2 separate regions of the Homo sapiens genome follow, and region 2 is linked to region 1. Evidence: fine-mapped expression QTL. Tissue or cell type: putamen. Region 1 holds a variant in brackets; the other region holds the start of a gene. All regions are shown on one strand. Distances are from middle to middle.

Region 1 (8,112 bases):
CTATCAAACTACCTTCACTTATTTTTTTGAAAGTATAAAGTTATATGTTTGTTGTATTATTTACTAGGAATTTAACATGTCTTTTAGTTGTATTAGTATTTATATTATCAATTATGTTAGTGCTCGACTAATTAGAAGGTTAATATAATTGACTAAATTTGATAAACCAAGGAGTATAATATATAATTTACAGATATGCAGATAACTATCAGAAGAATAAAAATAGAAATTGTTTAGAAATTTAAAACTAGCTCCTCAAAGAGTTACAAATTAAAACCATAGATAACATTTTTACCTGCCAAATTAGCAAACACTACAAATCAAAAACACATTTTATTTCCTGTGCTGATGAGGTATAGAGAACTAATGGCAGTATGAGTAATAAAATACCTTTTCAGAAGAAATGTAGCAAAGCATATCAAGAACAATCAAAATGTTCATATTCTTTGACTCAGTAATTCTACATGGGAATCTAAGCTAAAGACAATACAACAAAAAGTTTATGTATGAAAATGTTCATCAGAGCATTATTATTATTAAATGTTAAAAACATTGGGAATAACCTGAATGTCCAACAAATAGGGAATCACCTAACACTTCTACGTTGACTATATATTACAAAGTAATTTAAAAGGATGCTTATAAAGAATTTATATGTTATATACATAAATCTGTTTCCATTTTAAAGTGAACAAAGCAAGATATTATTTTAATAACAACTACGAAAAAACAGAAATATTACAAAATATAGTTATCTCCAAGGAATGTGAGGTCAATGATCACTCAGTTCTTTTCTTTTTATATTTCTATAGTTTCCAGTTTTACTGTAATGAGTATATATTCTTCACTCAAAAGATAATACTGAATAAATTGTCAGAAGTTGGAAGAACTATGTTCACTGAATAACTGAACTTCTTTTATTAAGAAAACATGAGTAGTTCATATTGCTTGAAGAACCATAAAGGACTTACAAAATTTCTTGAAGGAAAAAATTCTAATTCAGAATATCACAATGTCACTGCTAAAAAAAAATGGTATTAAGGTACACTGCAATTTTGATTTTTTAAAATCTTTCTTAACAAAAAGTAGCCGAAATAAGTGCATTACTAAATACATTAAAGGTGAGAAAAGAAGACCTTGCTACTTCCTATAACGTATATCACTTAGATTCCTATTTCCTCCACTCACTCTGAATGACCACAGCCAACAGGACTGGCAATTTCAAGTCCTGCATTTGAAACCAATCGAGTCTTTCCACCTGGAACAAAACAGACTTGAGATTTGTGAGCCTAGCTTTGTCCCATTGGTCTAAAGGAGACTGAAACTCAACATCAAGATGAGAAAAGTTACAACTTTGTAAACCTACAAAGGGAAAGAATCTTTTTGGCTTAGGCAATCTGTTGCCTTCTGTAATATATAATACACAAGCTTTAATTACTATACACTGTACTGCATAACACTATGTATCTCCCACAAAGACAGATCAGTACGTAGCAAACAGATTGGCTCCTGAGAAAATATGCTAAGACCTACAATGGATAAAATTCTCTTTTCAGGCCACAACATTTTAGACCTACATAGAAAGAAGGGTTTAGAAAGGGTAAAAGAGATTTGGATGTATCTCAAGTTTCCATCAGAAAAATAATCTTTTAAAATAACAATTCAGAACCTTAAAGCCTGGAATGCTATCATTTTATTAAAATAATTTCCTTTGGTGATGATTTTTAAATTGTGTATATTTTTTCTCATAAACATACTCATTTTTAAAAACCCACTGCAAGCTTTATATAATGCATAATTCTAAACAGCCAGTAATTATGTTTCCAAGAAACAAGTGCATTTCTAATGCAAAACAAACAAAGAAAAACAAACCTTAAATCAAGAAAAAAAAAAGCCTTAGACCTTCACTTCTCTTTTAATATTAAAGATCTTTTCTCTCAAGGACCACAGAATATATCTGCAATATCTCTTAGGAATTTAACATGTCTTAAGGACATCTTAATACATAGAATAAATGTATTATCATTTAGTTAATTCTAAATATCATTTAGTTAATTCTAAATAGAATTAAACTGTTATAAATACAACAAAACAATGTTAGATGCTTATATTACAAGTTTCTCTAAAATGTACTCTATGCTACTAATATATTATTTATCCTGTGCACATAAACTTTATTTCATGGTTTTAAAAGGTTCTTTTCTGTCTTCTATTTTCTGTCCTCTAAAAGTATTATTATGGAAGTGAAAATGATGCCATCATCTTTCAAGTTCCATCTGGTTGTATGTATCTCTGGTTGACTGAGAACTCAAATATCTTTTTTTCTCAGAAAATTCAAAAGCTTCTCCCCTGTCTCTCCTCTGGTACCTATGGAAAGCAATTACCCCTTGGATATGAGTAAGTTGGAAAATTCTTTCTGGTTATGAAGCAGCCAAGAACATACTTTCTGGTTTCAAACAGACCAGGCCTGAGGTTATATCCTATTGTAACCATGACATCTAGAAATAATCTTATGTACTAAAGTTAATGTAATTTGGATGATTCATTTAACTGCAAAAATGCATAGTAGTTTATTTTAAAAGTTGAGGCAAAGAGACAGTCAACTTCATAAATATTATTTAGTACTGCTGAAAACATAATATCCTGACAAGCATAGAAGACAGAATTATACAAGAGCACTGCTCTAAACATACTCTTTCTTCAAGCTATTTCTACTAAGTAGACTATGGTCATTACACAATACATGCCTGCTCAAACACTCATACATAGTACCTTTAATTTTGTATTCTCAAGATTCAGAGTTTCATTTTCATATTCAATTGAGTGAACTTTTCTAAGAATTTCTTCACATGAATTTTTTCCATGGTCTTCCATTTTCTTCAGATCTTCCAAAAGATTAATGATTTGCCTTTATAAAATCAATGACACATTTTATAAAAGTCATAAAAATTTTTATTCAAATAACACATTTTAAGTGTGTTTCTGAAATCACTTTGGCCGGGTGCATCGTTTCAAATAGGGAATATACAAAAAATAAATAGAACTCATAGAACAAGAAAAATAAGAAGAAGTAATCTAAAAGGGTACAACCAAAGTAACTCTGATTAGAAACAATTGCCCACTGATGATACCAACAAAAAATTATACAACATGCTCTTTGCTATTCAATAAAACTTCTAAACTATTATCCACAAGTATGCACATCTCTCTCTTCCTGTCATTCATACACATGCACACATATATACACAATTTTAGGGACAAGGTTAAAGAAAAGAATTAAGTGAGGCAATAAAACTAAACTTTAGAAATGAATTATATATGGTAGTTTTCAATGACAAAACTGAAGACACAGAAAACACTTAAAATCAAATATTCAGGGTTCATTATAGTGTTATCAGTAATACATTTCAAATAATAAAATATATGTATTTTTATTTTTCATTTTCTTTGTTATGCATTTAAGTCACTTTAAGGAACAATCATTTTTACGATTTTCAAAGCAGTTATTATAAACTTTTAGATATATTTTCACACATTCTTGTTTAAAAGAGAAACATCACCTCCATTTAAGAAAAAGTAAATATTAACATTTACTACAAATAATAGATGGCATACTGAAATATTGAATGATAATCTACAAGTTTAAAATTTCAAAATGTGGGCCAGGCGTGGTGGCTCACGCCTGTAATCCCAGCACTTTGGGAGGCCGAGGCAGGCGGATCACAAGGTCAGGAGATCGAGACCATCCTGACCAACATGGTGAAACCCTGTCTCTACTAAAAATACAAAAAAAAACAGCTGGGCTTGGTGGTGCATGCCTGTAGTCCCAGCTACTAGGGAGGCTGAAACAGGA[A/G]AATCACTTGAACCCAGGAGGCGGAGGTTGCAGTGAGCTGAGATTGCACCACTGCACTCCAGCCTGGCAACAAAGTGAGACTCCATCTCAAAAAAAAAAAAAAAATTAAAAATGTGAACACCAATTCACTTTTAATGAGCAATCATTTTAATTATTTTTAATAATAGAGTAAGAAAACTTTATTGAATTATAAATAGCAAAAATATCAAATCATATAGGTAGCACCTTTACCATATGTAATCTAAAAAAAATCAAAATACAAACAACTCAAAGAATTTTTTAAAAAGTGAAAACTCTTACTAAATAATAAAATATTCTAAATTTTTTCTTACTTTTTCATTGTTTCAATCTGTACTTCCAATTCGGTTTTTTCTATCACAATTTTCTCATAATGACTTTTCCAGGCATTGGAAGCTGAAATTGTTTCAGACAACTTGGCTTCCTAAAAAATACATAAAAGTATTCATACTATAATTTTAAAACATTTTTGTTTTGTTCAGATCTCTAAACACAAATACATTATAAACAGGGAAGCAATCTTCCAAAAAGTATGGAACTTCAAATATAGAAAACTATACATGCATGTTTATAGCAGTGCAATTCATAATTGCAAAAATATGGAACCAGCCTAAATGCCCACCAACCAATGAGTGGATAAAGAAAATATGGTATATATCCATCATGGAATACTACTCAGCCATTAAAAGGAACATCTGCAGCAACCTGGATGAAGTTGGAGACAGCTATTATAAGTGAAGTAACTCAGGAATGGAAAACCAAATATCGTATGTTCTCACTCATAAGTGGGAGCTAAGCTATGAAAATGCAAAAGCATAAGATTGATATAAAGGACTTTAGGAACTAGGGAGAAGGGAGGGAGGGAGGTGAGGGGTAAAAGACTACACATTGGCTACAGTGTACAGTGCTCGGGTGACAGGTGCACCAAAATGTCAGAAATAACCACTAAAGAAGTTGTCCAGGTAACCAGAAACGACCTGTCCCCTAAAAACTATTGAAATAAATAAAGTCACTGTACAACTTTGAATAGAAAAATTGTAAAGTAAATATCTATATTGCTATTATTTCATATACACATAGTGGAAGTTTCAACTTAAATTTTAAAAGATGTTGCAACTATTTTTAAACAATATTTCATAATTAAGATAATTTCTTTTCTTTTTACTGAACTTTCCATTTTACTTTTTTTTTTTTTTGCCCTGGCTGAAGTGCAGTGGCACGGTCATGATGGTTCACTGCAGCCTCCAACTCCTGAGTGCAAGGGATCCTCCTGCCTCAGCCTCCCTAGTAGCTAGGGCTACAAATGTCTGCCAACCACAGCCACCACATATATACACATGCATATATAAAATATATCTAGATACATATGTATATACTATATATATATGTTATACATATATATTGATATATATAACTACTCTATATATATGGTGTATATACTATATACTGTATATATATAGTAGAGACAGCATCTTGTTATGTTGCCCAGGCTGGTCTTGAATTAATTTCATGCTCTATAGAGAGAAGATGGTAACAAACACATAAGCATCAGAGGAGAAAGCCCCTGTGATATACACAGAAACTATCCCCAATTCCACAGCTCCATAACATTTGGTGATGTACCTTACTTGTCTTTGCTATAATGACGCCAAGATCTATTTTGTAGAGGTCACCCCATCAGCCTTCAAACACTGCTACCGTCCACACAGAGATACAAGTGGTAGTAGTGGCTTATTCATTTTGAATGTGAACTCCCATGAGGTAGGGATTTTTATCTGCTTTTGTTCATGGCTATATTTCTAGGGCCTTGATAGTGCCTGGAGCACAGCAAACACTCAATAAATAGCTCAAATAATTCTCTGCAGATCCACCTAAAGAGCTGTAGCCACTGTGCCTCCGCTCTACATTCTACATAAAAACACACTGGAAGGCCACAATGCCAGTAATTACAAATCAAAAAGCTTAGAAACAGTAATGACAACAATTAACATTTATTGGGTACTTCTTTCTTTCATCATTCATCCATTTACTGAGCAAGTATTTACTGAGCATGTATTACGTGCAAGACTTTTTTGTTTAAATTTTTTCACAGGAATATTTTGATATATTGAAGACTAGTATTGTTTTCATATTTTGTATAAAATAAGCTTTAATATAAATTATGAAGTATAAGTTTATAATATAAATTAAGATATTTAGAAGTTTTATCAGTAAGAAAAGAATTTATATGTTAGCAATATAATTATTACCTACTTCATCAGTATGGCATTCCTAGATGTTGAAACTAGTCAGTGATGGAATCACCTTCCTAGAGATTTTTTGAGTTGGCCTACCTTTTCTCTTTGCTTTAGAGAAATGGCACATCTAAGCCACGAGAAGCAAAATTAGGATCTAATTTTCAAAGAAGGAAATGGGTTAATTCTTCAGTGTGCAGAATTATAGAGCATTTAACATCCTGGCCCCTAGGTACTAAAAGTCAGAATCAGTGGTCTCTCGTACTTTCCAAATCCCCATTTCTCCTTTCATCTCTCCTTATAACATGCAGATAAAGCAAAATACCCCTTTTCACCTTTCCTTCCACTGCATTGAAACTGCATGTGAATTAGTAACTAGTGACCTTCTAATTACCAAAGACCACAGACGTTTACAAATCCTCCTTGTCCTTGATCTGTCTCTGTAGTCCTTGGCAAAATTTACGCATTGTGTAGATATGTGATAACATTTTGTTAAACTATTATTTAGCTCTTATTGCTGAACTGTTCATATTTTAGACTTAAGGTACTGTTTTAAATAATGGTACCCTTACCTTAGGTGAATAGGATAGCAAGCTCCTGCCTTCTGAGACTTATACTCAAGTAGAAGGAAACAGTTAAAAATAAAACAAAACACAACAGCAGTGATAAATGAAAAAATAAATGATATAGTTTCAGATTATAGTGAATGCTATGAAAAAAATTAAGACATTGATATGATTGTTTTAGAACTACTTCAAAAGAAATGGTCAAGAAAGGCCTCTCTGAAGAGATGTCAATTGAAAAGATACCTGAATGATTAAAAAAAGAAAGAGCTATTGTGAGCCAGGGAAGAATATTAAAGCCAGATGCAACAACAAACAAGAAAAACAACAAAACAAAGAAAAAAACTTCATGCATTACAGCAACAGAAAGGAGGACAATGCAAAAATATATTTTCTCATTTATCTCTCCCTACAAACACATGAGATAGGGAGTATTATGATGCCCTATTTTATACATGAGGAAATTGAAGAGGTTAAGTTCCTTATCCCAAGTCACAAGGTTAACAAAATACTACTTTGTTTGCCATAAACTTTTTATACAAGTCTGTTTTCATTTCTAAAAGCCTCTAATAATTCTATAAGCCTTAACATAAGTTCTTAAGAGGCAGGATATCAGTGAGACTTTTTTAAAAAAATTATTAATTAGTAATTGAATAAATATAATAATTTATCAAAAACAACAAAGCACTAAGGCCATTTTCAAATTTGTACTATACCAAAGATATATTTTACTTGGTGTGTTTATGTCAGCACATGGTTTTAAATGTATTACAGAGATTAAATTAGGTTAATTACTGAATAAAGTCATAGGGTCTAATAACATAAATCAGCATTTCTCAAACTAGTGTTCCTCAGAACCAGTTCCAAGAGTTGCTTTGTGCATAAAAGACTAGCTCTGTGGTTAAAAAAGTGTGGGAAACTCTTAGTTCAATACCCTTCATTCCACTGTTTCTGAAAGCCTTCTCAGAACCTTTAATTTGCTAACATAGACCACAATGTCCCAAGGGGAAATATGTATGAAGTATTACCCTTAGTTAGTTGGCCAATAGAACCTTTTTTTGTGTGTGGAGGCGGGGGGGACACACTTAATATTTCCTTTAAGTAAAGTTCCCAAGGAAATGCTGATATATTTCAATATGAAAATTTGACATTTTATGTAATATTTCAAAGTAAAAGATTAAAGCAAAAAGTGTAAGTTTTTTCTGGTATTAACAGCATTAAGAAAAGAATAAAATTACTATATTAAGCATCATGATATTAATTATATAAACTACGTACATAATAGATCTTTTAATTTTAAAAAGAATGCATTTACATACCTGATCTCTAATTTGGGAAGTAAGCTTTTCAATAGCTCCTGTAAAATGGTCAAGCCTTTGTTTGTAAACTTTAGATGCCTTTTTTAAAGCTACAGTTTTTTGCCTACTTGCTTCTTTCATCACTA
Region 2 (8,112 bases), 53 kb before region 1:
AGGTTCAAATAAGGCAAACACCCAGCTGTAACCAATCCAACTGTTTCAGTACCTCGCTTCCATTTTTTGAATGTCACATTCCTTTTTCTGTCCATAAAATGATCTGACCACGCTGCAGCACCAGAATTGCTCCAAACCTATTTTGGTTCTGAGGGCTGTCTGATGTGCAAATCATTCTTTGCTCAGTTAAACTCCATTAAATTTAATTTGTCTAAAGTTTTTCTAATAACAACTGAATGAGATCATGAATTCTGACAGATATGAAATTCCACTGGTGTAAAACATTAGTAAACATGTTTAATGAAACTCATGAAGAAAAAACATGTTCATTCCAAAACACTGGCCCACACCCTAAATATTGAAAATTCGATCTCCTTTGAGAAACTCTAAATGGTTGTGTTTCTCTTCATTAATAATAAAGATAAGAAGGACAATCTACATTGCATTGGATGGGTTACTTGCATCACTCAAAATGAGCTTAACAATTTACTCAGTTTTGAAAAGTAAATTCAGTCTTCCTATAAAAGGCTAAAATTTGTTGACCTATGGGTAATCATAAAAGAAAATTTTCTTAACACAAACGTAAGCTCTACTGGGCAGAAAAGACCATGTACTCTGAATTAAAGAAAGACTGTATTATGGTTAGAAAAAATTTAGAACAAAGTACGTTATACTAAAATACCTAAAGTTTATATATGGCAGGCCAGGCATGGCGGCTCATGCCTGTAAATCCCAGAACTTCGGGAAGCTAAGGTAGGAGGACTGGTTGAGGCCAGGAGTTCAAGACCAGCCTGGAAAACACAGAGAGACGTCTCTACAAAAATTAAAAAAAAAAATTACCTGGGCGTGGTAGCATTTGCTCACAGACCTAGCTACTTGAGAGGCTGAGAGGGGAGAACAGCTTGAGCCCAGAAGTCCAAGGCTGCAGTGAGCTATGATCATGCTACTGCACTCCAGCCTAGGTGACAGTGAGAGACGCTGTCTCTAAAAAATTAAAATAAAAATTATATAAGAGAACAATTACAGTATTCTTCTGATTATCTAAGAACTTGCTATTTTAATCTAGATGTTTTAGATTTAATCTATTTTACTGATCAAACTACTCTTGAATGATCACAAATCACTATGTTTTTACCACATTGCCAATCTGAAATATGAACAAACAAGACTGGCTGAGAATTGGGTAGAACAATTATGAAGAAACCATATGAAAAGGTGAAAAAAGAAAGCAGCAAGAAGGTCCAATAAAACAGGACACATTTTTCTTACAATGTTATTATATATTTAATCCATGTTTCTCATGATGAGATGCTTAAAGGCCTAAAAGTTACTTGGGAGTTTTGCATTACAAAATATCACAATTGATCCTGTTGCTAGATTTCTGCATTACAATTAAATCTAAGAGAAGAAAGTTGGTTTCTATTAAGTGTTAGGTTTTGTAATGTATTGTTGTAAAAGGGGAAAAAATAGGAGTTAATTTAGAAAAATTCTGGGTATATATTACCAGAGTTTGTCACTCAATTTGAAATCAGAATGGAAACTAACTAAGGTAGAAGACAACACATGACTGACTTAAAAAAGACATGACTTGTGTAGATTTCTTATTGGGCTTAATTAAATTGACTGAAGTTGGCTTTCAAAGCTTTTGTTTAACAGTGGTTTTTCAAATAAAATAACAACAAAAAATACATTCTTATTTCCATGTTTTGACAAATGTATCAGTTAGGGTTTCCTTCAGCTGCAAGCAACAGAAAAACCAACCAAGAGTAGACTGTATGATTAAGGGACTAACTTTTTTATGTTAAAAAATTTCTGATATGAGGTTGTTGAGGACTGGTACATGACTCCACGATATCATCAAGAACCCAGCGTCCTTTCAGTTTTCTGTTCCACCATTCTTGGCTTGTGGCTTTTTCTACACGGTCACAAAATAGCTGCTCTACCACCTCAAGGCTCATCTATATATAAGGCTGGGGCTTCTTAGTTTATCTCTTTAAAAATGACGTTTCAAAGTTTCATAACAACTGTTTTCATCTTACTGGTCGAGAATTGGGTCACAAGGTTACTTCTAATGGAAAGATGGTTGGAAACCTAAATGTTTTAGTTTTCAAGTTATGATGAAGGAAAAGACAAGAATGAAAGATTGTGAATGGCTTTTGAGTAGCTAGGCTACTGTGTCTGCTTCTGTGGGCAAGGGGATAAGGATGTTTATATAAAATATTAATATGTGATTGAAATCATTTCCAAATTACAAGAAGAGAATTTGTTTAGCAAATACTGACAATATGTGTTATTGTCTGGCCTTATTAAGGCATATCTAAATCTTTTAGTGAGTCCATGTAAAAGTCATTTTCTTACCACTCAGATGGTTTCTCTAAATTGCTGTGCTCCTGCTATGATTTGACCTTTGGCTGAGATGCTTTTTCAAATGCTTTTAGCTAAGCCCTGCATACATCTAGACACTCAAGCTTCAGGATAGTACAGATTTCAGCCCCATTACTCCTTTTCCAAGCTACAGCAGAAAAACCAAAACAAATATTGCAGATTTGTCCAGTTCTCTTAAGTATCAGCTAGGGAAGCAGGAAAAGTCCTCTCTATTATGTGGTGATTCTCCATATTAGAATCACCTAGGAATCTTTTAAGATATGCTGATACCCTAATATTTTTAAGGAGCTCTCTCTAGATGATTCTAGCGTGCAGCTAATGTGGAAAACTAGGCATTTGGAGAAAGAAGAGAAAAAGTTAGAAATAGCATGTAAAGCCTTGAGCATGTTATTGAACCTCTTTAAACTCACTTCTCTCATTGTTACTTACATGAATTAATCCAAATAAGTTTAGTTTGGTGTTTGGCTTACAGTAAACACTTAATAAATATTAGTCATTATTAATATTGTTTTATCAAAGTTCATATTTTTTCATCATTTTATTTGTGAGTAAATGGGGTTTCTCCAGGAAGCAAAAATATGTAAGACCACAGATCTTGAAAGCAGAGCTTGAAGAGAGCAAAATTTGGCATTCAAATCCCAGCTTGACCACTTAGTAGTTAATCTGACATTGAGCAGGCAAGCATTTGATCTGAGTCTCGGTTTTCTCATCTATTAAATGGGAGTGATACTTACCTCTCAGGTTGTGAAGACTAAAAGATACTATGTATGCTAAAGGATAATTTTCAAAAAAGTAAAATTATGACCCTTCTACAGTTATAAAAGAAACATATGTCAAAGATTTTATTTCAACTCTTTAATTACTGAGGGAACCACTAATATAGTAAGATCTGTTCAAATGAGAATTTGACTTATAGAGCTTTATAATCAACCAGTCAAAATTTGTTTGCTTTGGTATGAATAAGAATTTGCTGCATTGTCAGCAGTTTTCAACAATTTAACAGCTACCTCTGCAGAGCTGCAAAATAACCTAGTCAATAGAAAGTCAAGGTGTGAATTCTTGGAATCAGATAATCCAGGACTCCACTATAATGCCCAGCACTCCACTGAAAGACACCAGTGATCCTCTTTGCCCATTTCTGAGTCCTGACAAGTATATAAAGCACAAGGCAGAGTGTACTTGCCATGGAGTCAGTGATGATTACATGGTGGCTGCATTCATTATCCTTGAATAACATGATTATTTACCTAGAAAATCCAAACAAATCAACAAAATAAATGTATTATGACAGATAGGACAATTACAATCATTAAAATTTATCATTACTGTGACTCTTGAGTTCATGCTTCACATTCTTCCCTTCACTGTAAACATACCAATAATAACATTTTTAAAAATATATAAAGAAAAGTCATAGGCATATTCAAAAGCAGGATAATAGATCACATGCAGCACGATGCCAGAACTGAAGCCTCAGGCAGTGTAGGCAGCCAAGAGTTGGACTCACGTGGGGTGACAGAGCAAAGCGTTCTTCATAAAGCTGGAAGCAAGGACAGTGTTCCCTTTGCCAGCTCAGTGACTGGATCTCTAATATCCCCAAAGACTCCAAGCCACAGGAGTCCAAGCCACCAACTAAGACCATGCCCTGGTCTAGAGATGGTGGGGGGAGAGTTGGTGAAGGCAACCAAAAAACTGATATCCAAGGAGTCTTGAAGAGGAGGGAGATGAAAATTCCCACACAAGCTGAACCTGCAAACTAAAGCTTCGAAGAAAAGGAGAAAAATTAACCCTAAGAAAGAGCAAATAAACTTATCCAGGGCATTAATAGTTAACAGAATATGATGCAGAATTGTGGAAAAATAATGACATGGAAAACACGGTAAAAGAAGGGAAACGTTTCAAGGAAAGGTAAATGTCTTGAAGACTGATTTGCTCATTCGTGATTAGCTCTCAGCTCCAGTTCCACCCTATGCTTTCCCCCTATTGCAGGGAAGCAGAATCTGCTTACACCAGAGTCTTTTCCAAACCTTCCTTTCAGCTGTCTCTCAAAGAGAATTTGGCATTCTGGGAAGCAATGGGAGGCACTGGAAAAAACTGGAAATGAGGAGGATTTCTTCTCTTCTTGAAGTAGCTCTGATAAACATGGTGGCAGCAGTAACAGCAGCAGGCAAGCCTGAGCCCTGGACATCTGCTCAGGCAACATGGTTCAGACAGTAGATGCAGTAGCAGGTACCCCAACAACCTCAGTGGGACAGTTTCCCTAGGCTGCAACAGGGACAGCGGCTGATGACTTTTGGATCCTGGATACCTGTAGCATCAGCAAGAGCGCTAATTCCCTGCTTCCTGTAAAGCAGCTGCAGTGGGGTTCCAGCGGCATCAGGGGCACAATGACTGTGGGCTCTGGGTAGCAGCATCTTCCTTTCTGCTTCTCCTGCACTAGTATAGTGGTAACTTCTGGAAGTTACTATCTCTAGGTAACAGATCTTCCCTCTTTCGCTCCTCCAGCCCTTCCAACATGTTTGCAGCCAGTTTTCTGTCCTACATTCTGTCTGTTGATTCTGATTGCCTGAGGAGACACTGACAGAGTTGGCTATGCCTGCAGAATACGGATGACAGATGTGTTGAAAAATCAGAGAAGCTATGATAGTTAAAGAACTATAATGCCAGCAGGAATTGATCTGTCGTGCTAAAAACAAACAAACAAAAACATTACAAATGTATCCGCGTGTCTATAGACAGGAGGTTAGAAATGACTTGCTCTGGTTATGATTACAGATAATTTTTATTAGGCGAGAACTTCACAAATGCTAGAACTAGCCTATGTAAGCTCAAATCCCAGTTCTCCCAGCTTCTATCAGTATAGCATTGGGCAGATTTCTTAATCACTCTCTGACTCTTTTTCTCTAAATGCAAAGTGGTTGAAATAATATCTCAAAAAGTTATGGAAAAAAAGTGAGTCAATAAATTTTTTAAAATGGAGAAGAGAGACTGGTTCATGGTACTCTACAAGTGGTTTTCTAAAATGTTTTTCTTTATCCAGATCCTTACTGGTTAAAAAAAAAAAGAATGAGCATAATAATTTTTTAACCAATAAATAAATAAAATGTTTGTATTTATTTTCCAATTTTAATAAAGGATATATATATTACTACTGACCAGAAAATGTCATATATAAAAAGATAAACATGGCATTCCATAAAAAATGAACATAAATTATCTTAAAATTATTGCCAAATTTGTGATTTCTACAGTATTACAGGGTTGCAAAGCTTCTTGGAAGATAAACTAGACTCCTCTAACTTTTAGCAAGTCTATTCCTCTACTTTCTTCATATCAATAGCCAACATCCTGTCATGAAAATATTCATCTGGATTCACCTAAGTCCTTCTGAATATACGTTTTCCTCCTCTCACGCAGTTTTCAAATTGTATTTAGAACATTCAATCAACATCTTACATGTAACAATATTCTCTGTATTTAAACATTATGCTGTGCCTTTTCCTATTTATTGCCAGGTGAAATAGATTTTTCTATGGTTATTCACAAAAATCTCAAAGTAAAAATGAAATGAACTGATAAACTCATGAATTAATGTGTTATGTTAGGAAGAATACTTGTTTCAAATTGTAGGGGCTGCCATGGAGGGTGGAGTGGCTTTCCTGATTGATAAATGTACAGCTTGGCCCCTTCTTTGGGATCCTCCTTTCTGCAGAGAGTTCCAGTTTTCGTGTTCTCTTTCCTGAGGGACAGTGGAGGCCTAGGGGTAAGCTGGCTTCATTCAGGAAGATCACATTAACAGGCTTGTTCAAGCGGATTTTTCAGCAGTAAACCCTTTATTTTGATTTCTGTGTTTTATTCCTGCATCTTTTACTCTCAGTTTGTCCTAAAATCAGGTGGGGAAGAAAAGATAAATAGTGAAAAGATGAATAGTGATCCCCTCAAACTACAGCATGTTAACTCAGGCATATTACTTTAATTTCCACTTAAACCAGGGGCTCTTACCTGGGGTCCGCAAATGCATGCATAAACATGGATGGGAAAAGTAAATCACATCTTTATTTTTTCTAAATTTCTTTTTTTTTTTTTTTTGAGACGGAGTCTCACTCTGTTCCCAAGGCTGGAGTGCAGTGGTTCAATCTTGGCTCACTGCAACCTCTGCCTCCCGGGTTCAAGCGATTCTCCTGCCTCAGCCTGCCAAGTAGGTGGGATTACAGGCACCCGGCACCACGCCTGGCTAATTTTTGTATTTTCAGTAGAGACGGGGTTTCACCATGTTGACAAGGCTGGTCTCAAACTCCTGACCTCAAGTGATCGGCCTGCCTCAGCCTCCCAAAGTGCTGAGATTACAGGCATGAGCCACCACGCCCAGCCTATTTTCATTAAACTTCTAACTGACATTTAGCCTTTCCTTTCATTGTGAATGTAGACAGCAAATCACCATTGTAGGAGCAGAACAAGTCACCTTGTCACCAATAGTAACCACGGATATTTTAATCTCTTATTACTGTTATTGGAGATATCTCCAAATATCATTTACTTTCATCACTACTTTGAAATTATCATCCTTACTAGACTTGCCATTAAATTGCACATGACTGCAGCCTTCCTGTCTTAGATTCCTGTGTGAGGTAGCTGGCCAGCCATCTGAAACTGCCTCTTATTGGTGCTTAACATCCACGAAGTCACTTATTCTCAATTGGTGACCCAGACATCTACATTGCCTTCCAGTAAGTGAGATACTTTCATCGTTAGAGTTTTGCAAGACTGGACCACTTTCAAATGAGAACTCTTAACTCTCAATAAGAACATGCAACCTCATGTAACTCAAATAAGTGCAGGAGCTGCATGCAGACATGGCAAGTTCAAAGGCATCTGACAGTTTTCAGATCACTGCAGAAGTGTGAAGTAGCTTCCTATTATTGCTAACAGATACGTATCACACAGTGTTGTAAGATCTTGAGTAGCAGAATTCTTTTGTTTTTCTCTTGTGATCCCTTTTTGTACACTGGGTGTATTAAGAAGTAAAAGCATGTCTAATCAATGTGCCGTACCAGTGGTACATTACTGCATTACTTTTCTATGAAAATACCACACATTTTAAAAATAAATTCAAGAAAACCATCTACAATCCCAGAAATGAGAACTATTATTTCTAAGAAGACACAGAAAGCCACATGACTAATGCTGGAGAGAGTGCTAAGCCAAGATACAAAATTCTGTCAATTTCCTTGAAAAAAAGAGAGCTCTACAAAGACCTGGAAACTATTCAGAACATTTTCTAAAGTGACGTCAATTTTGATGGTATCAAAGTTAAAGCATTGTTGTGATGCTGTAGCGCCCTTAAGCTCCACTAGCTCTGTCTTCTTCTAGAGCTATACCTCATCCAGTGGCATGATCTAAATAGCATCTATATATTTTTATCTCAGTCTGTTGGCTCCCTTTAGCATGACGAGATTTCACAGCCAATGAAGCTTGATTTTGAAAGCCTGTATAAATTAGCCTGCACTATGAATCTCTGAGAAATTGATGACAGCTCCTCAATGTATTTCTCTAGCCCTGACCCCTCTTATAAGCAACGTAGTCAAATACCCAGTTGAGTTCTCTGATTACAATCTTCACATGAAAATATCAGATATTTCAAAACCAACAAAAGCTTTTGTCTCCCAAATATACTCCCACGCAGTCCTTGCTCAACTTATAAATGCATGTTCATCTACCCAATTGCTT

Direction of the effects. Alleles are on the strand shown, and positions count from the first base shown. SD is a standard deviation of normalised expression in the study named.
For the expression in putamen of the gene that starts at base 4,838 in region 2, A is the low allele of the variant in region 1 and G is the other (moderate effect, 0.44 SD a copy in GTEx).

The links. PIP is the estimated chance that this variant, and not a neighbour inherited with it, causes the effect.
Region 2: LINC02795 starts here. The variant in region 1 is fine-mapped to the expression of LINC02795 in putamen (GTEx, PIP 0.95).

The regions. Positions count from the first base shown.
Region 1 is chr1:86,368,246-86,376,357 of GRCh38, forward strand. It overlaps ODF2L (outer dense fiber of sperm tails 2 like), which reads right to left. Exons shown (of 17, transcript NM_001366781.1): 8 at 7,988-8,112; 9 at 4,186-4,295; 10 at 2,773-2,908. Among named protein-coding and RNA genes, the nearest start is that of MIR7856, 15 kb to the left of the region's middle. The variant A/G (reference allele first, on the strand shown) is at 3,854.
Region 2 is chr1:86,314,764-86,322,875 of GRCh38, forward strand. It overlaps LINC02795 (long intergenic non-protein coding RNA 2795), which reads right to left and starts at 4,838. Exons shown (of 4, transcript NR_187380.1): 1 at 3,893-4,838; 2 at 3,569-3,632. LOC105378825 (a long non-coding RNA gene) reads right to left here. Exons shown (of 3, transcript XR_007066205.1): 3 at 5,541-6,268.